Regions from separate parts of the Homo sapiens genome. Here all the other regions are linked to region 1. Evidence: fine-mapped expression QTL. A gene starts in region 1. Each other region holds a variant in brackets. All regions are shown on one strand. Distances are from middle to middle.

Region 1 (8,177 bases):
CCTCTGTCACAAACAAGGTTTCTGATTTGCCCAGAACAAAGGCCTACCCATCCGCTGGCCTTGGAAATAGCCAGAGAGCAGCTCCTTCTTCCTAGATTACCCTATTCTTTGCGAAACGGCCCCATCCCAAAACCAGGGAAGCCCTCGGGAGGCCAGTGGGCTGACTTCTTCCTTTGCCCAGAAGTGCACCCGCTGGGCGCGGTGTGCCAGCCCTGGGCTGCCCAATGGGCGCCGGACAGTAGGTGCCTTCTGGCTCTGTCCTGGGCGCTTCCTGCCCAACTCCAGGCACAAAGACCCCAAACTGTCCCTGACAATTCGTCTGGGACAAAGCTATTCCATCAGCCTGAGATCACTGGGGAGCACCCACCCACCCCTGCTGCTGCTTTCCAGAAAGTCTCATCCTCCCAGGGACTTCAGGGAAGCTTGGAGGTGAAAGGAGGTGTTTCAGTAAAGCTCAAATTTCCATGGTTCCGAAAAGGTTTCTCCCCCTAGCCATGGAGTTTCTCCCGTTTTTGCTGGATAAAAAGCAAGCACAAGCCTCTTGGGAATGGGTCTTTGGACAGGAAGGAGGACAGGGATTCCGGAGATTGGAGTGAGGTAGAACCAAAAGTTTCGGCACCCCGTAGGCCTCTCAGCAATTGCTCTGGGCACTGCAACTAGGGGGCTGAGATTGTCATTGGCTCAGGCTGGCTATTAAATCCTCATCCAGACACCTCCCAAGTATTCTGTTCTGTGGCAAAGACTATCGGGGAATGGGCCAGGCAGGGAAGGGGCTAAGGAGTGTGAGGAGACCCTCATTCAGCATGTAACCCAGCTACTGCTGCTACCAAGAGGTTCTGGCCCAGATGTGCTGGAACCAGTTTTCTACATACATGGGGGAGGAGGAGAATGAGGGGCATATTGACACACACCCATACATCGGGTAACGGTGCTCCAGGTTTTCAGTGCTTCCTCTGTAATGACTTTTCATATGGCACACAGTATGTTATCCACGGTGGCAGGCCCCATGTCTGTTCTGTTCTCTCTGTGCTGCTTAGTGTTGCCTGGAGGCTCCTGGCAGGTCTGATTCATGGGCTTAGGGCCCAGGGGCTGCAAAGAGGGCAGCACTTGGAGGAACAGTGAGTCTGAAGCTCCAGAAAAATCTGCTTTCACTGAACATAGGCGGGACCCAGTCCTGGGGGAAGTTTAATCTTAAAGCTTCATGGGTCAGAGGAGTGGCACATTCATGGTGAAGGCTGTGGCTGAGGTTGCAGAGATTGTATGCTTTTTCAGGGTTAGTGTTCTTAGACCCACCCCATCCCAGAACCAGCAGGAACTTGAGAGATTACCCAGGCTTCAATCTAATAGTGGAAGAGAATGAAGAGCAGACTGGGGACTGGCCCAGGGTCTCATACCAGGAAGTGACTGCCTGGTCTCACTCACCCACACCAGACCAGGGTGCTCCTCTGCAGCCCCAGCCTAAGCACGCTAAGATGTAAGATGGCCATTGCCAGGGCTGGGACCAGCCAGCCAGGTGAATCCTTTTAACCACGTAGCTGAAGGAGACGTGCTGAAAAGAGTACGTTGCACTTTTGTTGGAGGTCAGCAAATTGGGCTTTGAACCTCATCACAGTCTGCGGTAAATTCTTCTCCATGTCTCCCAGGGTCCTTAGATCCAACTCTGGGGCAGCCCCTGTGCAGCAGTGCATAGGACTCTGGATAGGGTGGCCTGGACACAGCAGACCTCCTCCCAGCCCACAGATACAGACTCTAAAGATGCCACCTGGATTTCTGCAGAAAGCTTCCCCTTTCTGCACCCGCACTGGCTTGGGACCTACTTTGTCAGCCCTGTGGCCTCATTCAACATGCCAGGGTAGGCCCCTGGAAGCTAAAGTCTTAAGAGGAGTCCCAGGGTTCCATTCTCTCATGCCTACAACACTCCCAAAGGACTTCCGGAATGCTGCAGCACAGGGAAAATTTTTGAAATCTTGCAGAGAAGGAAATAAACACAAAGGCATAAATATATGCCTTACCATAGACACCAAGCAAAACCAAAAGTTGAACCCAGGGCTCTAGACTCCCATTCCGCGCTCCTAGCACAAACTCCATAGAAAGCATAAAAGGGTGGGAAAGAAGGAACTGGCCTAGACTCGGGTTCCATAGCCCTAGACTGGCTGAGGGCAGAGCCCAGGATTTGTGCTGGCTTGGGTCAGGCACTGAGTATGGCCCTAGGAGCTCCTGGCCTGCAGCAGCTGAGGGGGGAAGAGGAGGAAACTGAAGGAAGTGGAAAGGACATGTCCGGGAAGGAGCTAAGCCCCGGGCTTTTCAAAACGTAGAGCAAGAACACACCCATCCTCAGTTCTCCCACCTTTGTGCGAGCCCTTCTCCCACAGGACCAGCACCACATGTTTCCATTGGCACCCTGACAAAGAAGCAAAAAACAGGACCCCCTTTTAAAGCACCTCATCCCGGAGCTCAGCGAGCCGGTTCCCAGGCTGGAGTGGCCAGGAGCCGAGCCGATCCCCAGCGGCGAAGCGGGAGGACTGGGAATCTTGCCTCCGTTCTCCTCCCCGACCACCCACCGGGGAAGCCCCACCACCGTCCTAGAGTCCCTGCCGTCGCCCCTCTCCCCCGCCCCGGTGGGCAGACTGCGGGTCTGCGCCGTCCGGGGTTCTGCGTCGCAGCTGCCGGCCGGAGTCAGCTTCCATAGAGGCCACACGGAACTGCCTGGCGCTCCTCGGGCTGTGGGACCCGTGGGGTTAAGTCTGAGTCCCCGCCCGGCGAGGAGCAGAGAGCGCAGAGTTGGGGCGGTACAGGCCGCCAGGCAGCCGGCGGGGCTAGGAGAGGGAGGAAAGGCGGGATCCTCCGGGAAGTCGATTCTCCGGCGTCCGCCTGCGGCCACTGCCAAATCTTCCCCATTTCTTTCGTCTACTCCCTCCCCTTTTCCCTCGAGGACCGCTGAGTCCAGAGTTTCTAGGATGGGGGTGGGGCGCTGTCAGCAGAAAAAGCCAAGTCTTTGGGCGGCACCCGAGCACGTCCAAACTCTCCCATCCCACTGGCCTGCGCCGGGGTAGAATGTGCCCGGTGAACAGAGAGCCTGGGAGGGACGCGGTGACCTGGGGAGAAGGGGAACCCTGTAGGGTCTGGGCGAGGCTGCAGAGCCCTCTCCTAGCCAAAGCTGCCCAAACTTTCTTCCCCTGGAGTCTCCTTCCACCCCTCTCCCTCCCCTTCCTCCTGGACACCCCCTTAAACGGTCTCCGCCTTCCCTTCTCTCCTCTTCTCTCCCCACCTCGATCCACCCCTTTTCGTCTTCGCCCGCTCCCCCCGCTCTCCTGTCCTCCTCCTCCCTCCCTCTTTGGGCATCCGCCCCGTCAATCTCCGCCGCCGCCGGCCCCAACCCGGCCCCTCTCCGCCTCCCAGGCTCTCAGAGCGCCCCAGGCTCCAGTAGAGCCGCCCTCAGTTCTGCGCGGAGCGGGGCGATCTGTCAGCGGAGCCGGCCGGGGGGAGCCGCCCGGCCCGCCGAGGCTCGGGTTACCAGTGACTGACAGCGTCTCCATGGCGAATAATTTGACTCCGACTATTGTCTGGCGCTGGCAGGCCCCGGGTCAGATAACCGGACCAATCAGGGCGCGGGCCGCCGCGCCTCATGCCCGCTTAGAATAATATTATTAAGAAAGCTGAGAGCCAGCTAGACGGGAGGGAGAACGAGTGAGAAGCGAGCGAGGGAACGGCGGGCGGGCGCGGAGCATGCGGAGCGGCGCCCCGGGCGGCCCCCGGGCTTGGGCGAGGGCTTGGGCCAGGCGCGCGGGCCGTTGGGGTTCGGAGCTTCGTGGGACCCGCGGCCGGCGCGGGGACGTACGGCAGTGACTCGGGGCTCACCGGGGGCCAGTGCCGGGCCAGGGGGCCAGCCCCGCCCGCGTCTCGGCCCGGACGGCCCGGCGAGGAAGCTCCCATGCGGGACCGCGCGGCCCGGTGAGGGCGCGCGCGGGCGGGCGGGGACGCAGCCGGCACCATGTCCATGCTGCCCACCTTCGGCTTCACGCAGGAGCAAGTGGCGTGCGTGTGCGAGGTGCTGCAGCAGGGCGGCAACATCGAGCGGCTGGGCCGCTTCCTGTGGTCGCTGCCCGCCTGCGAGCACCTTCACAAGAATGAAAGCGTGCTCAAGGCCAAGGCCGTGGTGGCCTTCCACCGCGGCAACTTCCGCGAGCTCTACAAGATCCTGGAGAGCCACCAGTTCTCGCCGCACAACCACGCCAAGCTGCAGCAGCTGTGGCTCAAGGCACACTACATCGAGGCGGAGAAGCTGCGCGGCCGACCCCTGGGCGCCGTGGGCAAATACCGCGTGCGCCGCAAATTCCCGCTGCCGCGCTCCATCTGGGACGGCGAGGAGACCAGCTACTGCTTCAAGGAAAAGAGTCGCAGCGTGCTGCGCGAGTGGTACGCGCACAACCCCTACCCTTCACCCCGCGAGAAGCGTGAGCTGGCGGAGGCCACGGGCCTCACCACCACACAGGTCAGCAACTGGTTCAAGAACCGGCGGCAGCGCGACCGGGCGGCCGAGGCCAAGGAAAGGTACGAGTAAGTAGACCTTCTTCGGCGCCAGCTCCCCGGGGCCCAAGGGAGGGGTTCGCAGGGCTTCTGCCGGTCCCCCGGAGAGGCCTAAACTGGGCCCCCAGGCCCGGCCACAGCCCAGCGGCAGCCCGGCCTGACTTGGACGATGCTTAGGCCTTTCTATGCCGGAGACCCGGCGAGCAGGGATTTGTCTAAAGCGGGCAGAGCAATTCAGGAAGTTGTCAACTAACTACTCGGTCGCTAGAGGAAAAGGGTGGAGAAGCAGAGAGCTTCGGGGCAGCGCAGAACTGTGGGCCTGTATCCCCTGTGAGGCAGGCACAGTAGGTCTGGTCATCCTCAGGACAGAGGGGTTTGAGCCCAGATGAAAGGGGATTTGCAGATTTCTTGCTGGTGGTGCTTCCCGGCATTTCCCCCCAGCCTTAGCTCCAGGCCAAAGTGTGATGGGGTCGGGACTGGGGCTGGAACTTCCCTAGAATGACCTGGATGGGGAAAAGCCAGGCCATGAATTTTCGTTGTCACATGGAGTTGAGAGCGGGTCCTTTATCTCCTTAGAAAGGATCCAGAGGTGAAAGGGAGGAAGTGTCAGTTCTGGGAGAGAAGAGACGCATGCCCTGTTTTCTGCCTTGCTAGAGATAGCCGCCCTTCCCTGGCACTCCAGGCCCTTGATGCCTCTCTCCTTAGGCCCTACCTCTGATGGGTAGGTCGGAATGTCTGCGGTGAGCTGAGAGGCACAGAGGGGCTGGGAGTTGGATGTCCTCAGGTAAACCAGGACTTCCTGAACCAGCCTAAAGGTTGATCATTAGGCCCTTGCCACTGCCTGCCCTATAACCCCTCAGGACCTCAAACCTGGAGAGAAACTTATTATGGGAACAGAATCCAGCCCGGGGTAAGAGCAAAACAGGACACCTGGGGTTGGTGATATGGGGTGTGTTCCACCCTGAGTTTGAATGATCAGGGTCAGAGGTGAGGGTGCTGAACCAGAAACATCTTAGGGGGAGTGCTGCAGGCTCAGATACTTCCAGGTATCTGAGACCCTGAGGTTGGAGTTTCCACAGTGGTGAGGTCTCAGCTGCCAGCCCTGTGGGAAGCTCCCTCCCAGGAAAGCAGAAAGAAAAACCCTCCCGAAGCTGGTGACAAGAGATCCTACCCAGGATTTTAAATATCCAAATCTGGGGAGGAGCTGTCAGTCAAAGGCATAGAAGGAGGTGGGTTCTCTCTGCTGGGTCCCCCTCCACCCAAACCGGCATGTGATCAGACTCCTGAAAACCTGGGTTCTCAGACCAGGCCCCAGATGAGAGCTGCAGATTCCCGGAGTGGCTGGTTACAATGGAAAAGCCTCGGCCTTCTCCCAGGGGCTGCCCTTTATCCCCCAAGCTTCTGGTCTCCGAGCTGACGTTTTCACTGTACCACCACGGAAAGGGAGTCCTCCATCCTTGGACCCTTGTCTCTAGGCCCAGCAAGGAGAGCCCTCACAGGGCTGCCCAGTTTGGAGCTACAGGGAAAGGACGCTTAGCCCCAGGAGCCTGTCTCCCAGCCAGGGGTCTCCCTCGGGCAGAAAAAGCAAAGGGAAATGAAGTCTTGTGAGAGGCCCTAAATCCCTTGACCTGGGATCCAGGGTTCCTTAACCTGCTAGCCCCACATCTACCCAGCAAACCTGGCTTGTGGAGCCTAGAGTGATCTGAAAATCCAGGCATCGTCTCTTCCTCCCGGCTCACCCCACAACTTCAGGGAACCCTGTTCTCCTGCACCTCTGTTCCTGAAAAGAAATATTGGGGAAGGGGGGAAAGAGGAAATATAGAAAAGATATTGATGAGATTGACAGCATGAGAGGTGGGGACGATAAGGGCAGAGGGGCAAGAGAAATTGGGTGTTGAGAGATGGAGAGAACGGGCAGAAAGGAGAACCCAGACCAGGTCGAGGAAATGGTAGAAACCGAAAACACCCGCAGGCCACAAGCCCGGGATCTGTCTCCCGAGGCTGGTGGCTGGCTCTGACTGTGACTGAGATGGCGCTGGGTGGTCTCGATGTCCCTGCTGACCCCGCTGCTTTGCTCCCGCACTTGCAGGGAGAACAACGAGAACTCCAATTCTAACAGCCACAACCCGCTGAATGGCAGCGGCAAGTCGGTGTTAGGCAGCTCGGAGGATGAGAAGACTCCATCGGGGACGCCAGACCACTCATCATCCAGCCCCGCACTGCTCCTCAGCCCGCCGCCCCCTGGGCTGCCGTCCCTGCACAGCCTGGGCCACCCTCCGGGCCCCAGCGCAGTGCCAGTGCCGGTGCCAGGCGGAGGTGGAGCGGACCCACTGCAACACCACCATGGCCTGCAGGACTCCATCCTCAACCCCATGTCAGCCAACCTCGTGGACCTGGGCTCCTAGAACCCATTTGCCTTGATGAGCTTGCCTTTTGTGACTTGACACTGGGGACGTGGAGTGGCGGTGTCCAGGGGCGCCCCGCCCCTGCGGCCCCACCAGGTACTGAAAGACCCGCAGGCTGAGCGGGTAGAACAGCCGGGTAGGGCAGATAGCTGTCTATGTTGGTTCTTGTTTGGGATTTATTTTCAACAAGTTACTTTTAGGATCCTTTTGGGGCTGGAGACTGAGTCTTGAACCACAGAAGGGAATAAATTATACACCACTGTCATTCTCTCTCTCCCTCTGTCTCTTCCTTTTACCCTCTCTTGTCTTGCCTTTTCCCCCTTTCCTCTTCCTTTCCCTTCCTTCTCTTTTCTTTTTTCTGCTTTCTGTCTTTCTCCCTCTCCTTGTATTGCTTTCCTTCTAGATTTCTAGCTTGCCACCGTTCATTCTCTCCTTCTGTCTCTCCCTTTCTCTCTCCTTCTCTGTTTCTCCTCTCTTCTCTCCTGCCAGTCTCTTGTACTCTGTGTCCTGGTCCCTCCGTATGTACCCCTGTCTTTCTCCTCCTGACTGGTGGTCTATCTGCCCCTACCTCTGGCCCTCGCTTTACCGGAGTAGGGGGTGGGAGAGGGAAGAGGAGAGAAAATACAGGGACTTTGAACCTAGGCCATCTCCTGAGGCCTTTTCCCTCGCCCATGTGGGTCAGTGGGAGCTGCAGGTGTCAGCTTTTCGTCTAGTAACTTAAGTGAGAGAGAAAGGGCAGCGCCACAGAAGCCCCTAAACGCCGCCTCGTCATACGCCCCTCCTCCTTCTCTCTTGGCGAGGCCCCGCCACACCGCGCTCTTCCTCCCGGGACTGTGACTACAGCGCTCCCGGCTGAGCGCGCCCCCCGAGCCGCCGACTTGCCGTCTCCCCGTAATGCCCTCATGTGAATGTTCTTCGGGAAATATTTCTGCTTTTATTTTATAATAAAATTAGAAATCATAAATATATAAATGGTTATATGCCACAAGGCCCGCGGGCCGGGAGTGCAGCTGTGTCTGATTTCCCTACCAAGACTCGACACCCCGGGTGGGCCGTTCTGGTTGGCGATGCTCTCTGGTGAGTCCCGAAACAGCCAGACGCCTTCCTATACACACGACTTGTGTCAGTCGCTAGGTGAAGGCACTGAAATTCCTGAAACAGCTCCCTCCCTTTTCCTGGCTGGGAAAACTCGCTGCAGAAGCGGGGAGGGGCAGCCTGCTGCCCTCCCCACACCAGCGACGCGCA
Region 2 (8,177 bases), 280 kb before region 1:
TGTAATCCCAGAACCTTGGGAGGATGAGGTGGGCAGATCACTTGAAGCCAGGAGTTCAAGACCAGCCTGGCCAACATGGTGAAACCCTGCCTTCACTAAAAATAAAAAAAAATTAGCCAGGTGTGGTTGTGCACACCTGTAATCCCAGCTACTTGGGAGGCTGAAACATGAGACTTGCTTGAACCCAGGAAGTGGAGGTTGCAGTGAGCTGAGATCGTGCCACTGCATTCTAGCCTGGGTGATAGCACAAGACTCTGTCTAAAACAAAAACAAAAACAAAAACAAAAGAAAAAGAAAAAAAAGAAACAAACTGAGGACAGCGAAAGGAAAGCCACTATGTAGGTCCAGCCCATCTAGGTGGTAAGGAGAGCAGAAGAGTCAAGGGAGATAGAAGGGAGAGGAGAAATAATTCTAAAGCATGGAGTGCTTTGGTGGCAGGGGAGGTGAGTGGAAGGATAGGGTTCATTCCAAAATGGAGAAGCAGAGAAGCCAGGGGCCTGAAAAAGAGCGCAGAAGTGCTAGAATATAACAGTGATTATTTCAAAAGTCCGCTTAAAGCCAATCCTGCATCAAGACAGAGGGCTACCCTGTGTCCAGGACCCAGAACTCATAAGCTCCCTTTTGCCTATGTCATGGGAATAGACTGGCCTGAGAGTATACCAGCAAGCACCACAGGGCTTTGCCAGGGAGATTTGTTCTCATGAACTGATTGCTGGGACATGAAACTGTCACTAGGCCTCCCTGAGGCGGGTATGACAATATTCAGGCAGGCCCTTCTTGAAATATAATGTCAGGATAAGAAGGTAGTTTCAGCCGGGTTTGGTAGCTCATGCTTGTAATTCCAGCCCTTTGGGAGGCTGAGGCAGGAGGGTTGCTTCCTGGGCAACATAGTGAGATGCCATCTCTACAAAAAATTTAAAATTAACCTGGTGTGGTGGCAAGTGCCTGTATTCCCAGCTACTTGGGAGACTGAGGAGGGAGGGGAGGATCGCCTGAGCCCAGGAATTCAAGGTTACAGTAAGCTATCATGCCACTGCACTCCAGCCCGGGTGAAAAAAAAAAAAAGGTAGTTTAAATTCACACATCCAAAGTGATTCTTCTTAGTACAATTGCTGACCAAGGAGATTTCCAGTTGTACTTGAAGGTACATTGATCACCTGACCAGTGCTGAGGGTCTCTTAGCCAGAGGGACCAAGACCCCAGCAGCAGTTGCCTGTGCCCTTAGAAGAATCTTCAGAGGTAAGGATGCAGCAGTTCATTAACAAGAGGCAATGGAAAAGTGAGCTTCCACTTACGAAAATGCCATCTAGAGAAACACTTTCAGGTCTGTGCTGTGCCTATCCAAGCAGAAATTCTCTAGAGGACTGGAGAGTTTCCAGCTTTCCTCAAAATGGAATGGGTGATGACGGCTCTATGGGGGAGTTAGCGTTTCTTAAGGAAATTTTCTCTCAGGCATCTCTCTCTACGTGCTAGCAAGTTGCAGGGGAAAGCAGGTAATTCAGGGCACTAAATATAAGCCTGGGGATCAAATCCTTGCTCTGCCAATTTTATTTGAGGATTCTTGGCAAAATGACTTGAGCTTTCGGAGCCTTGGGCTCTTCATCTATAAAAAAGGGATGTATCAGATAGCTTTTGCTGAATAACAAATTTCTGAAAACATAGTGGCTTAAGATAACAAGCACTGAATATTTCTCATGATTATGTAAGTTGGCTGGGAAGTTCTTCAGGTGTGGGTAACCTCAGCTGGGGCTGGATGGTCAAGAACAGCCTCACTCCTATGCCTGTGGCCTCAGCTGGGATGGCTGGAGAGGTGGGCGCCTTGCTCCACATGGTCTCTCATCCCCGGGAAGCTAGCCTGTGCTTGTTCACAGAGTGGCAAAAGGGTTCAAAGCTGAGAGAGGGAAAGCCTTGATGCAAAAGCACTTTTCAAGCCCCTTACATTGTGTTTGCTAATGCCCCACTGGCCAAAGCAGGATGGTCAATACAGAATTGAGCGGATGGGGGAACAGACTCTACTTCTCGATGGGATGAGGTGCAAAATATTGTGGCTATTTTTTTTTAGTCTACCACAAAAAACAGCAACAAATCTACCCCAGTGGGTTATTGTGAGGCTCATATAAAATAATGCATGAAAATAAAGCTCTTGACATGGTCCTGGCACATAGTAGGTCTTCCGTGAACGTGAGTTTTCATTTCTTCTTTTTCTTCTTCTTGAGTAAGAGCACATCTTTATGAGAGGCATGATGGATCTGTTGACTCTAATTCCATTCTCTTTCAGAGCACATGGAAATTGAAGCCATGTGGGACTTAACAAGAGATCAAATAGTGCCTTAAACATCCCAGGGCAGCAGTCCTGTCCCCAGAGCCTGGGGCGGCCCCTGTGATGGAGCCTGTCTTTCCTGGTGCTCTGGGTCCCTCCCCTCCCAGCCTGCTGCAGGTCGGTCTTTTTCTCATTACAAATTGCTCATAAGCACACACATCCCCAGATGCCCGCATAAAAGCTGGTATTAAAGTTGTGTAATGGTGGTGTGAGCCTTGTTATTATTAGGGTAGCAGTAAGCTGTTCCCCAGAGCTTGGGGCTGTACTGGGCAAAGCTCTGGAAAAGCTGCACACTCTCTCCAGTGCAATCTGACCGCCCCCTCCCAGTGAGGCTGCAAAGAAGAGATACTGAGCTATGCAATTGTATGGTGAGTCAGTTATCAGGGGAGAAGAATTAGATTGTGAGGGTGGAAGCAGAGACCTCTGAGGAGAGAAACCCCTAGGGACAGAAGAGAAGCACTGGAGATCTTCAAAGGATTCTGCTGATGCATTTTCTCCAGGAAAAATTCCATAATATTTGGCACCTGCCAGAGAAATACTGCTCTGCATTTGATGGCATGTCATAGGGGACCAGGCTTCCTGCTCTTGTCAAGTCTTACCAACAACTCAGTGAGCTTGGCAGGAGCATCAGCCCCATTTTACAGATGTGGACTCTGGCGAGTCTTCACTCCTTTCCCAGGAATGCTCTCTCCTCTATTTAGTGGCCCCTCCTGTTCCTGGACCTTGGATCAGCTTATTCACTGATGATGACAGCGCTGATGAAACATTAATTCATGACCTCTGGAATACGCACTCTTTAACACATGTAAGTGTGTGTAGTGTGCGTGATTGAATATTAGATGAGAAATCAACCTTGGCCTCTTGCCACTGTAGCATCAAGGGTTCTCACAATGGCTGATGCAAATCTCATGATGAACACTGGGCTCAAGGGAAATGAGAGGCTACAAAGACCCGAGCCTGGAGGGTCAAATCACAAGCTAGGAAATGGGCAACTGCTTTTCAGAACACTGTTCAGAACCAGAATGGCAGAGGAGGCAAAAGATGAAAATTTTTTAAACCTTTCCTATATGGCAGAAACCGTGCTGAAGGCTTACATGGATTATTTCCTTTCATTACCACCAGCACCCCATTAAACATTAAACATTATCACCTGTGTTCAGTGCTCCCTTATATCTGGGACTCTTCTAGACACAGGATAATTTCTCTTTCCCACATCCTTGTTGGAGGCAAGACCATTTGAGAAACTTGACCAGTGACTGGTGAATGGGAGTGATGGACATCTTTTTTAGGCTGAAGCACTTAATAGTCTCCACGAGGCCCTCCAGTATCCTGGAAGCACATGGTAGACAGGGGTGACACATAGTTGAGACAGCCTGGATCTCTGAGCTTCCATGTAGAGGACAATAGCCTTGGGGAGATCCCTCAACCTCCAGCCAACTTTACTTGAATAAGAAATGCAACTTTGTTGTTGTAATCCACTGAGATTTCAGGGTTGTTTGTTATTGCAGCAAAACCTAGCATATTCTGCCTAGTGGATAGGCAGAATCATTATTTTATAGATGAGGAAATTAGGGCTCTGAATAGGTTAAAAACTTGCCAAGGGCACACAGAGCCTAAGTGGGAACACCAGGGTCTGAACCCACGTGTGGTTCCAGAGCCCAAGCTCTTAACCATGATATGATTAGACAAAAGTCATGGCCACTGGGAAGTCATTGAAGGACTTTTCAAACTGGAAGTAACCTGATGACCATAGGGTTTGCAGAAGCCTGCCCTGGCTTGTGTGTGAGGGGTGAGCTAGACTAAGGAGACAGAGCAACGCCCAGAGCAGTCAGTTCACCCAAGGTGTTGTCTTTCTCCCACATCTGCCACATGGAGGGGCAGACCTGTTACTCACCCTGCCTGGTGGTATTTGCATGTTTCAGAGGAAAGGACAGCAAGAGCTGCTTCGCCTTGGGAACAGGGAGGGCAGGAGGGGAAGGGGTAGCTGGTGTGGAGGCGGGGGAGATGCTGCCAGGGAGGGGGCAGGAAAATTCTCTACCCCTCTCCCGAATCACTGCAGCCCGCCCATGGCCCTCAGAGCTTACTCAATGCTGTCTTTCCCAGAGTGTTTCTCTTGGCAGAGACCTCCTCAGGGGCCCTACCTTATGATGAATGCCACACACCCAGGACAGAGTTTGGTAATTTCAATGGGTTTTTACCATCTAGTTCAGCCAGACGATTGAGATGTTTGTCTGTGGCAGGTTTGCCAAAGCTGGCCTTGGGTCACCTGGGGCTACAGACCATGCCCGTTCCCCCTCTCCAAGATTCTGATGCAGTCAGTTTGCCGTGGGGCCTTGGGCTCCCTGTGCTTAACAAGCCCTCCAGGGGACTTACACCCTCTCGCAGGTTTGGAAACAGTGACTCATGCAGTACCAAGTCAGTCTGACTGAGCTGTTT[C/T]GGGAGTGAGGTTATGGGATACTTTGGCATCCTGAACATAGCATGGAGCCCTTGTCCCCTGCAGCCAGAACAATTTTTCTGTCTATTGAAATTTCTTTACATTTTTTATGAAATTAAATTTGGAAAAGATTTATCCAGTTTTTAAAGTTTATTTTGTTTTTCAAGATGAAAACAAATGGTTTACTACATACCTGAACACTCCCTTTGTGAGCCCATGTGAGAATTTGCTTTAAGTCTCACTCCCAGGAATATCTGTGATTCTTGTGAGTGACGGTTTGCTTTTACCTTAGTGACACTGTGATTCTTGTAACTAATCATATATCCTCTCTGCTGTAGCAACTGGGAAGCCCAGAGCCAAATTTGCAGTTCCTCCTAGCAAAAATGTTCTGCAGCCACTGAAATTCATCTTATGTTTCTCCCCTCGTTTTTCAGTCATTTGCTATAATACCACCTTTTACAAAAAACGTTATTTGTATTTCTAAAAGCTTCACAAATCCTTTTTGGAATGAGGTGAAATGGACATGAATAAAGATAATTCTAGGGAAATAATTTCACAAAATTGCTGCCTCTAAGTTTCAGCTTGTAGGAACTACAGGACTTTGAGCAAAAGCCAGCCCTCCTCAAGTGATCCTGAAGTATCGACAGGGGAAATGGTGCTTCTGGGTTCCCGGAACAGAGGGAGGCAGGCTGAGAGGGTACCTGGCTATCCTGAGGCAGGGTGTGTTTTGTGATGCTGCCCTCTGGGCTGGGCAGTGTGAGTGGCCAGGGGCCATCTTCAGCATGGCAGAGTCCCCTCCTGCCCAGAAACAGCTTCCTTAGCACTGGAGGCATTCAACAGCCAGGGATTAATTCTTTTGGGTCTTGATAACTCTTCATTTTTCAGGGTCTCCACAAAAATCCAAATGTCTCTGGGCAGGGAGCAGGCCTCAGGTGTCTCAGGTAGCTCCAGCGGAATCCCCAGGAGGGATGGGAAGCAAACTTCCTGGGAAAATGAGTGAGCCAGGCTGTCCCAGTGGTTGAGTCATAAGGTTGGCAAAGGTGCGTGTGTGTCCTGGGTGGAGGAGGCAAAAACAGTGGCTTTTCCTAAGGCCCTGGGCCCCTATGGGCCTCCCTTCAGCCTAGGACTGGGATGTGGAAAGAGGAGAAGGAAGATGGAAAAAAGGACTACCTATAGCTTTGCCAAAGGCTGACCTGGCAGGGTCCTCAGGTGTTTCTGTGCACCCTCGAGAAAGATTGTACCTGCTGGGTTTTAACTCTGCCCTTAGCCCCGCTGCGGGCAGAGTGTGAGGAGGCCCTAGAGAGTGAAAACAGGGAACTATGGAGGGAAGTGTTTATAGTGAGACCTCAGAAGTGATGAAACCCCCCAATTACGGTTCCAGGCCTCGTTACCTCTCTCGGTGGTGCATTTGCGTGGTCTCTGGCCTCTTGGCCCAAAGGTCTCATGGCTTGAGTCCACAGGGACTCAAGCCCTATGGCCTAGTGGCTGTTCAGCCTCAGCGTTCCTCACAGGGCCAGCCCTGCCCTGGCCTTTCATGAGACACACGTGTGCATGCGTGTGTGTGAGTGCTAGTGAGGCCTGGTGGGCGCACAGAGGCCTGCCGACGTCTATTACATGGAGAAACATCTGTTTTCTGCAGAACATCCACAGTATCAGATGTTTTACTGCAAGGAACCCATTTTTTTAATAAAACGAAAATGAGACATGGAAATCAAGGTAACCACATTTTAAATGTTTATGGAAGATAAAGGTTTAACCACAAGTCTTTCATCAAATGGAGGACAGTAGAAAAAAGTTTAGGGAATGCCCTCTGGCTGTCCTCGCCTCTGCAGTGAAACCTTGAAGAGTCTCACCTCATCTAGTACCGGGGTCCTCCAGGCAGCTGGAAATAGTTAGCAGTGTGTCTAAATATTGTCGTGCAGCAGTCCCACCATCAGCCTGTCAGGCCACGACTGTTGTGGGGGAGAGAGATTTGTTCAACCGAAAAGCCCAGACTCAAGTGTGACCCACAAATGGTGCGTTGGGGCACAGAGCAGCCCTAGAGGGGAGGCCTCTGCTAGGAGAATGGGCCTCCTCTCTGATTCCTGAGGGTGTGAGCAGATGGAGGTGGGTGGGCCTGGGCAGGCTTGCCCCTTTTTTCCTGGTGTCCAGGGACCAGGGGCCCTGGGTTAGGGTGAGAGGCCCCTCCAACTCCTCCCACGAAAACAGGAGTGAGGTTTATGGCAGCTCTGTGGGGGACTTTGTCTCCTTAGATACCCACCATATGCGTCGTTGGTGAAAAGTCCTCAGGTGCCACCATCATTCCCATTCAACATCGTCACTGCTAGGGAAGGAAAGGCAGCATTTTCTCTGCAGTTACGTGGTCACCAGAATGGAAAATAACCTTCCTGCACATTTCAAGGATTCTTCCTCCCAAGACTGACGTGCACTGATATGTTATCTCATTTTCTCAGAGATTTCCATGTTATACTTGAGAAAACAGGGAGCCCAGAACCTCCAGACACAGTTCTGAGGAGGCTTCCTGGAGCACGAGCAGAGAGAAGGGCTGGGTCCTCTTCCTGGGGCTCACAGGGGGAAATGGAGACTTGTGATAGAGCCCCCCAGGGTGGCACTCCCTCACCTCTCCTCCACGGTCTGAAATCAGTCGCTCCACTTTGGACCTGAAGTAATTTTTCCATTTTAGAACAATCCCTCATTCCACAGCCCCATGCCAGGGACTTGTCTCTCTCACCATCAGCCGCCGCGTCCCCCAGAAACACACAAAGTGTAAGATGGAGCGAGGAATCAAGTTGAAGGATGTGACCCGCAGTTTATAGTGGGGCCCTCCAGACACCCGATCCCGTGTCTGAGCTCCATTACCACGGCTCTGGCCGCTGGCTGATTCGCCTTTCCTGAAAGGAGAGAGGTTCTCCAGGGAGAGGATGCCGGGGAGGAGGGAGCGGGGCGAGAGAGCTGTAAGCCTCGTGTGGAGGCTGGGTTCTGGGCGTGCTTTGGGTCTCCGTGGCTTCACCACTGTGCAGATCCCTCCTGGTGGTGGTGGTGGTGGTTGTCGGGGGAGGCGGGGGCAGGTTGTGTACTGTAGGAGTGAAATGAGATGGAGCCCACTGGGGGCTGTTTGGGCTTGGCAGTGAACTGGGTTTAGGGACCAGAGGTATCTTCTTCCCCGTCAGCCCTAACCCAAGCCATGTTCGTCTTGCTGATTTAGCAGGAACTAAAACGTAAAAGGGATTTCAACTGGGGCAGTGAAACCAAAGGTATTTCCTAGGCTCGTAAACCTCTTATGCTATCAAATAAACTGGAAGATTCTGCTTGGTGCACAAGCTCCATCGTTATTAGAGGTGCCATCGTCCAGCTGTTTGGCAAAGAGTTGCCCACAGAACAAGTTCTGTTTTCTTAGGCCTATGATGGAGGAACATTTGCGAA
Region 3 (8,177 bases), 220 kb before region 1:
AAAAGTGTGGCCTGAGTGCCTATGGGGATGAAGGGTGCCCAGAAAGAGTGTTCACAGAATCCTTTCTTTTCACTAACAACCACTTTTTTGAAGACTGGCCCCATGCTCAGTGGAATCCTTAATTTCCCTCCAGCATCTTGATTGTCACTCTTAAATGGTTCACTGTGTCTTAGCATAGCTGAAGCATTTGCCAAACTGTACAACAAGAAAAAAAAATGGTTCCTGGAATTTTGGTCCTTTAATCACTGCTCCAGACTGGTTCTGGGAACTAAGAGGCACCATCTGCAAAAGGCTTTTGGAGGAAATAGGGTGGGAAGAGGTGTGGGTGGAGTTGTCAGGGAGAAGAATATGTCCCTAGATCCATTAGAGCAGTCTGATCTGCCGTCCCTCTAAGCTGTGCAGCCACTTTGAGGAGAAAACCATTTTGTGGTTGTCTTCAGCAAGCCTAGATATTTTAACTTCATTTCCAGGCTGGTCCTTGCCACTCTTTCCTTGATTTATTTTCTGTTTTTTGGCTGTTGTAACAGGAAAATCTGTTCCCTTGCCAAACAAACAGCACTGAAAAAGATAGGCCAGGAGAAAGTTCCCACTTAGAGCCTCACCTCTAGGCTTCTGGAGGATAAGCTGCTCTTCCACTCCTTGACCCTGGCTTGGTCCTTGCATGCCTGGGGGCAGACGGGAAGGAAGACAGGCCTTCCTGTCAGAGACGTGGAGCAGGGTCAAGTTCCACCTTCTCTGTAAAGTCTGCCCTGGCCACTCAGTCCTCTGACCCTTTGAACTCCTGCTTCACTCACTATTCTACCCATTTTTACATTGAATGCTAGACTTGGGTGAATTTTACAAATCATCATTTTTCCAATATGGAATTATAATTTTTTCCAGCTGTAAACTCCTTAAACAGCAAGGACCATACTCTGGCTTCTTTTCTGTTTACGGGAGTCCTTAGCATGAACCTGGACTCATGGTAGAAGTTTAGCAATTACTTGAGTTGACCTAAATTCAAGTCATTGCTCGGCCACTAGCAGTATAATAGCATGAACATTTCCGAGGTTAGGTAAAGAATGCTGGGAGGTGATCAGACCCCCAGCTCCCTAGATGTCCTGCAATGATATCATAGGGAATTATGCCAGTCCCCAGAATGTCACCTCCAAAACTCCCTGCAGGGCCCTGGTATTAGGGAATTGTCCCACTCCCAGAGGAAAAAAAGAGTTGTCTAACCTACTTTATGTCAGTACACTTACAGAACCTTTCACTGTGCTTGGCCATGGTGGCTAGTATTTCTTCCCCAGTTCCTCGGCTCCTCCCTATCTTCAAGTGAAGCTTCAACTTTTTATTTGCTCTCTTGTCACACTCTCATCGCTCTCTCCTATGTCTTCTCTGGATTTTGGAGAAAGCAAATCCTAGCAAGCTTTGTCAAGTATTATCTTCTTGTTCCTTCAAGGAATTCTTTTACAGCTTCCTTTCCCTAAAAAGTCCTTCCTGTCTGGGTAGAGAAGATAGTTTTCCTTTTCTTCTTGTGCAAATTATTCTACTGTGTTCAAAGCAACAAATACTTAGTTGATGATGCATGTGTTCTTTTTTATATAAAGGTATTAATTTATTTAATTTCACTTTAAGTTTAGGTTTTGACCTTTATCTGGGTTCTCTGCTTAAGTGTATGTTTCCAATATCAGGCTAAATGGGGGTAATCCTCTTGGAATGGACTCTGTATTAGTACATTTTCATGCTGCTGATAAAGACATACCCTAAACTGGGTAATTTATAAAGAAAAAGAAGTTTAATGGACTCACAGTTTCACGTGGCTAGGGAGGCCTGACGATCACAGCAGAAGGTGAAAGGCACATCTTACATGGCGGCAGACAAGAGAGAATGAGAGCCAAGCAAAAGGGGTTTCCCCCTATAAAACCATCAGATCTTGTGAGACTTATTCACTACCATGAGAACAGTCTGTGGGAAGCTGCCTCCGTGATTCAGTTATCTCCCACGGGGTCCCTCCCACCACATGTGGGAATGATGGGAGCTACAATTCAAGATGAGATTTGGGTGGGGACACAGCCAAACTATATCAGTCTCTCTGGGACTAAGAGATCTGCAGTGTTGGTTTTCTGTGCCTCCATTTTCTCTTTTCCCCTGGGTGGCTCACCCTCCCTTGGTGGAGTCTCTGTGCTCCCCTGTTCTTCTCCCCTCTCTTATTCATATTGGCTTCTAAGAAAGGATCTCAGAGGAACTGCATCAAGACCCAAATACATTGCTTACTTCTTCAGTGGGCAGGAAATGGAGAGAGAGGCCAGGTCAAATCAACCATCTAAACCCCATAGAGCAATGCCAGAAACAGAATGGGAATAAGGCTAAGCCTGCTTATTGGCAAAGGGCCTCCCTGGTGTCCCAGAAGCTCATCTACACGGCCAAGCATTCTCTTAGTTGCCTTGCCAAGCTAAGCTGTCCTGACTTATTTAGAGTGGACGTGGCACTGGCCAAGTCTGGAGTATTTGAACTCGCAGTCTTGTAACAGAATCAATCAGAAAATTCTAGAGTTGAAGGCAAGGTTTGACATTGTCTAACATGGATATTTTACTTTGCTGATGAGGAAACTGCAGTCCCAATAGAAATGATGAATCGTCCTTCCATTTGTTAGGGCGGAGCTGGGCCTAGAGCCCTGGTTTCTTGATTTTCACTCCAAAGCTTGCCCACTACCCTTTTTTCCCCGGTTTTTATGGCTATACTTGTTTGTTTATTTTTTAATATGAACTTTACAATCAGCTGTTCTAGTTCCATGAAAAAGGTCCTATAGGTGTCTTTATTGCAATCATATTAGATTTACATTATTTATAAAATAACTGAATAGAAAATTGAAATTTTCATGATGTGGAATCTCCATATCTAACAATATAATATACCTTTTATTCTTTTCAAGCTCCTTTTGCGTCCCCAGGAGTATTTTAAAGTTTCCTTCACATATTTCTTGAAATTTTTAAGTTATTTTCATGTATTTTATACTATTTTTGCTATTGAAAATAGGGCCTTTTCTTCTACTATATCTTCTGTTACATATTTATTTCTATAAAGGCTATTGTTTACTGTATATTAATTTAATAACCGGATTTATTACCGAATTCTCTTGTTTTCAACAGTTTTTCAATAGGTTCTCTTGGGTTTTCAGGATATACAGTCATGTCATCTACAAATCATGATATTTTTGCCTCTGCTTCTCATATCAAATACAAAAGTTATTCAGCATGCCATCAAAATTAAAAAGTTTTATGCTTCAAAGGATACAATCAAGAAAGTAAAAAGACAACACACAGAATGGGAGAAAATTTTTGCAAATCATCTACCTAATAAGGGACTTGTATCTAAAATATACAAAGAACTCTTACAACTCAATAATAAAAACACAAATAACCCAATCAAAAAGTGAGAACAGGGCCCAGTGTGGTGACTCATACCTGTAATCCAAGCACTTTGGAAGCCAAGGCAGGAGGATCACTTGAACTCAAGAATTTGAGACCAGCCTGGGCACCATGGTGAGACCTCATCTCTACTAAAAGTTAAAAAAAATAAAATTAGCCAGGCATGGTGGCATGTGCCTGTGGTTCAAGCTACTTGGGAGGCTAAGGCAGGAGGATCACTTGAGCCCCAGAGGTTGAGGCTGCAGTGTGCCATGTTCACACCACTGCACTCCAGCCTGGGTGACAGAGCAAGACCCTGTCTCAAAAGAAAAAAAAAAAAAGCAAAGGATTTGAATAGACATTTCTCTGATGAGGATATACAAATGACCAATAAGCATATAAAAAGATGTTCAACATCATTAGCCATCAGGGAAATGAGATACTATTTCATACTTGCTAGAATAGCTATAATCAAAAACCCAGCTAATAAAAGTGTCGGCAAAGATGTAGAGAAATGAAGCCCTCATATGCTGCCAGTGGAATTTAAAATGGTACAGCTGGTTTGGAAAACATTCTACCAATTCCTCAAATGGTTAAACATAGAGCTACCACATGACCCAACAATTCCACTCCTTGGCATCAACCCAAGAGAAATGAAAACATACATCCACACAAAACTTCTACATTAATGTCCATAGCAGCATTATTTATAATAGTCAAAAAGTGGAGACAATCCAAATGTCCACCAACCTATTAACTGATAAATGAAATTGCTATATTTGTACGGTGGAATTGAAGTTAGCAATAAAAAGAAGCAAAGTACTGATACATGCTACAATACGGATGGACCTTGAAAACAATGCCAAGTGAATAAGCCAGTCACAAAGGACCACATATTATATAATTCCATTTAAATGAAATGCCCAGATGAGACAAATCTGTAGACAAAAAGTAGATTCATGTTTTCCAGGGGGTGGGGTGGGAGTGGGGAAATGGAGAGATTGATGGGTGATGGCTAAGGGGTATAAGGTTTTTGGGGGGTGGGTAGGAGAATATTCTAAAGTTGATTGTGGTGATTGCTGCACATCTCTGAATATACTAAAGGCACTGAATTTTACAGTTTAAATGGATAAATTTTATAGTATGCGAATTCTATCTTAATAAAGTTGTTTAAAATTATGCATGGGAAAACCGGGGACCAATTTTGGATCTAAAGTGCGTGTTGGGGGTGGATGCAGGGTAGTTGTTCTTGCATTAGCATAATAGGAGACGGGTGGAATAGAGGAGTCCCAGCTCAGGGAGAAGGGAACGATACTACCAGTCAGAAAATTCTCAAGCTGAAAGCAAAGTTAGACATCTTCTAGCCTGGATGCTTTACTTTGCTACTTATATTGAGAAGGAATCTGGGGCTGAGGCTGACTGACTAACAATGTCTGTCTGCCATTATGATAGCCAATATAGATTAAATAGGACCTTTGTGCCAGGCACTGGTTTAAATACTTTAT[A/G]TGCTTCATCCCATTTAATTCTCTTAAATATACAAGGTAGGTAATATCATCAGCTCTAGTTTATAAATGAGGAAAATTCAGCCACAGCTTTGCTCAAGATCCATGGGCTGCTCAGTGATAGAGTCAGGAGTCAGACCCCAGAAGCTGGACACCAGAGTCCTCTCTGTTAGGCAATAGTGACTCTACTGAGGGCATGGAAGCCTACGTTTGAAATCTATCATCTGGAAGTGGTCACCCTTCTTGGGATAAACTAGGCATTTATCCCAGCTGAGGGGAGTCACAGCTCATCCGCAGACATCTGGGTCACAGGCTGCAGGGTGCAGGGGGAACAGAATGCCGCAGAAATGTCTCGGGGGATGCCAGGTGGGGAGAGCAAGTCGTAGACATACAAAAATCCCCTCCAGCCCCCACAATCACAGCCTTTGTCATCTGACAGTTTTGCCTGAGCTTTTTCATGTGAGGAGTTTCTAAGGCCCTTCGGGGCCAGGCTAATGCCTTAGGTGGGGGCTACAAACTGAACATGAGTGAGGCAGTCTGTGTGTAGATGTGCTTGGCTTTTCTGGGTGACCTGCATGCAAAATGTCACGTGCCTCGGTGGGAACAGGCACTTCTCAGTTATTTAACCCTTTTCCTGTTTGCCCTGAGAATACTTGCCGGCAGCGCTTGCAGCTGCAACGTTTACCCCAAGATAACTTTGCCACAGAATATCTCGCTGTTATTATTGTTGTCGACTTTGGCAACAAAAGCCATCATTCTATTTGTAGCATTCTGTTTTTAGTAGTGGTATTTCCATTCACAATGTATAGCAATTCTCGATTGCTGAAAATGTCAAATCCTTGAAAACGTAGCATTCTTATGAGTGATGTTAATATCGTTCTTGGACAATTTTTGGCCAAAGATTCATTTGATGAATCTGAGTTTTCTGAAACAGATGATTCCAGGGTTAGTTGTGTTTAGAAATGACTCCAAGAACAGTTTTTATATTTCATTTTCGCATTGAAAATCAGTCTATTTGCTTCAGCCTCAAAGAGCATGTTTATGTAAAATTAAATGAGGCTTGCAGCGAGCTGCACTTTTTTTTTCTAAACAGAAAAAGTTAAGGGGCAAAGGAAACTCACTGCCCTGACACTGCTCACATAGGGGGTCAGCCAAGACTGGGCGAAACTAGTAACGCACCAGGGCCTGGCATCCCATGGAGTCACCCAGCCAGTCTCCCTGAGGTTCTCCTGGGGACACTCAACCATCAGCCAGCTGCCCCTAGCCTTGGGAGTCTCCTCAGTGGGGGTGTGGGAGGAGCTGCTCGCTTCTCGTCCCCTGTAGTGGAGATCTGGGCCTCTTTCCCCCTCAGCATAGAATGAGGCTTCACAGGCCTATGCTCCCTCCCGCCCCCAAAACCCAACAGGCTGTCCTGCCATGCTGTGGCGGCGGGGGGTTGGGGGGATGGCGAATGGGAGGTGTCTTGAGCACACAAGGCAGAGGCAGTGATATCAGTGGAGGAATGAGGCAGAAAGGTGTTGCTTGGATGTAAAACAGGGAAGAAAACACAAAACGAATACAGGGAGAAATGTGAGAAAAGATAAATGTGGAATTTGGCACCTGGCAGGCACAGGTAGGGTATGGGCCCCACGCCCTGGTTCGTCTCAGCTTGTTCGTAGCCTTCTCAGATCGTCCTCTACCTTCCTCTCTGAGTTTGCTCTCAGCATTACCTGGGTGTATGTGTCCCCTCTGCCGCTCACTACCCATGGGTCCTGAGGGAATCTGTTCCCTGAGCCTTGGCCGTCTTGCCTGTGAAGTGGGTGGCATGACAGGGGAGCTTCCTTCACAGGGTGGCTGTAAAGGTTACACGAGGCAGAGCCTGTAAGTCACTGAGCACAGTAGGGTCTTAACAGCAGCTCAGTAAGTGAGATCTATTTTATTATGATATTTTTAATATTTATGTATTTATTGAGATGGAGTTTGGCTCTTGTTGCCCAGGTTGGAGGGCAATGGCTCAATCTTGGGTCACCGCAACATCCGCCTCCCGGGTTCAAGCTATTCTCCTCTCTCAGCCTCCCAAGTAGCTGGGATTACAGGCATGTGCCACCACACCAGGCTAATTTTGTATTTTTTTAGTAGAGACGGGATTTCACCATGTTGGTCAGGCTGGTCTCCAACTCCCGACCTCAGGTGATCCGCCCACCTTGGCCTCCCAAAGTGTTGGGATTACAACTTTTGAGCCACTGTGCCCGGCCAAAATTTGTTTTTAATGTAGCACAGCATTTACCATTTCAACCATTTTTGAGTATACAATTCAGTGGCATTAAGTACATTCGTACTGTTGTACAACCATCACCACCATCCATTTCTAGACCTTTTTCATCATCCCAAACAGCAACTCTCTTTCAATTACTCCCCCATCCCTCCTTCTCCCCTGCACCTGATAACCTGTAATCTATTCTCTGTCTGTATAAATTGGTCCATTTTAGATATTTCATGTAAGTAGAATCATACAGTGTTGGTCCTTTGTGGCTGGGCATGTTTAACTTAGCCTTATAATATTTTAAAGCTTATAATGTTAAAAGCATATAAAGTTATAATGTTTTCAAGGTTCACCCATGTTGTAGCATGGATCAGAACTTCATTCCTTTTTAAGGCTGAATAATATTCCACTGAAAGTTTTGTTTAACCATTTGTCTGTTGATGGACATCTGGGTTGTTTGCACCTTTGGCTTGTTGTGTCTATTAGAGGCGTTATAGTCACTCATCTATGAAGAAGAAGTGTAGTCTGGGTTGGGGGGTCAGAGCACAGCCTCTGGAGCACACTGCCTGAGGCCTCGTCCTTTATCTTACCACCTGGGATGTTGGTACATGTCTTAACCTCTTTCTGCTACAGTTTCTCATCTGTGAAATGGGGATACGAGGCTTGGGCTCCTGTGAGGAGGAAATGAGCCAACACAGATAAAGTAGCTATAGTGGTTTCTGTCACCTGGTCAACATGCAGGAAGGTTAGCTGTCACTCTTGTGTTGGGAGTTTACATCTTTACTGAGACCTATCTGGGTGGACTGGAGTTTTCTAACTTGTAGGAACTGGTGGTCAAAGAGACAGAATTGAAAAACTGGAAAATGCTAGAGGTGAAAAAGACTTCAAAGATCACCTACTCAAACTTCCTCCTTTTACCAACAGGGAAACTGAGGCCCAGAGAAGAGGGGGCCAGAGTGACAGAGGCAGAACTGGAGGCAGGCACCTGCCCCCAAACTTTAGACCTCAGCTTCAGCTCCAAGCCTGGCTTCACCACCCCCATCC

Direction of the effects. Alleles are on the strand shown, and positions count from the first base shown. SD is a standard deviation of normalised expression in the study named. Not every link is listed here.
As copies of T replace C in region 2, the expression in aorta of the gene that starts at base 3,650 in region 1 goes up (small effect, 0.30 SD a copy in GTEx).

What was found. PIP is the estimated chance that this variant, and not a neighbour inherited with it, causes the effect.
Region 2: its variant is fine-mapped to the expression of SIX2 in aorta (GTEx, PIP 0.91).
Region 3: its variant is fine-mapped to the expression of SIX2 in aorta (GTEx, PIP 0.97).

Annotation. Positions count from the first base shown.
Region 1 is chr2:45,004,925-45,013,101 of GRCh38, reverse strand. SIX2 (SIX homeobox 2) reads left to right here and starts at 3,650. Exons shown (of 2, transcript NM_016932.5): 1 at 3,650-4,551; 2 at 6,617-7,920. The coding sequence starts at 3,992. The coding sequence ends at 6,932. RefSeq lists enhancers at 1-314, 2,578-3,177, 4,182-4,955, 6,229-6,772, 6,773-7,316.
Region 2 is chr2:45,280,440-45,288,616 of GRCh38, reverse strand. No RefSeq gene overlaps it. Among named protein-coding and RNA genes, the nearest start is that of LINC01121, 30 kb to the right of the region's middle. The variant C/T (reference allele first, on the strand shown) is at 4,757.
Region 3 is chr2:45,221,778-45,229,954 of GRCh38, reverse strand. The region is part of intron 1 of LINC01121 (long intergenic non-protein coding RNA 1121); the gene reads left to right. Among named protein-coding and RNA genes, the nearest start is that of LINC01121, 29 kb to the left of the region's middle. The variant A/G (reference allele first, on the strand shown) is at 4,895.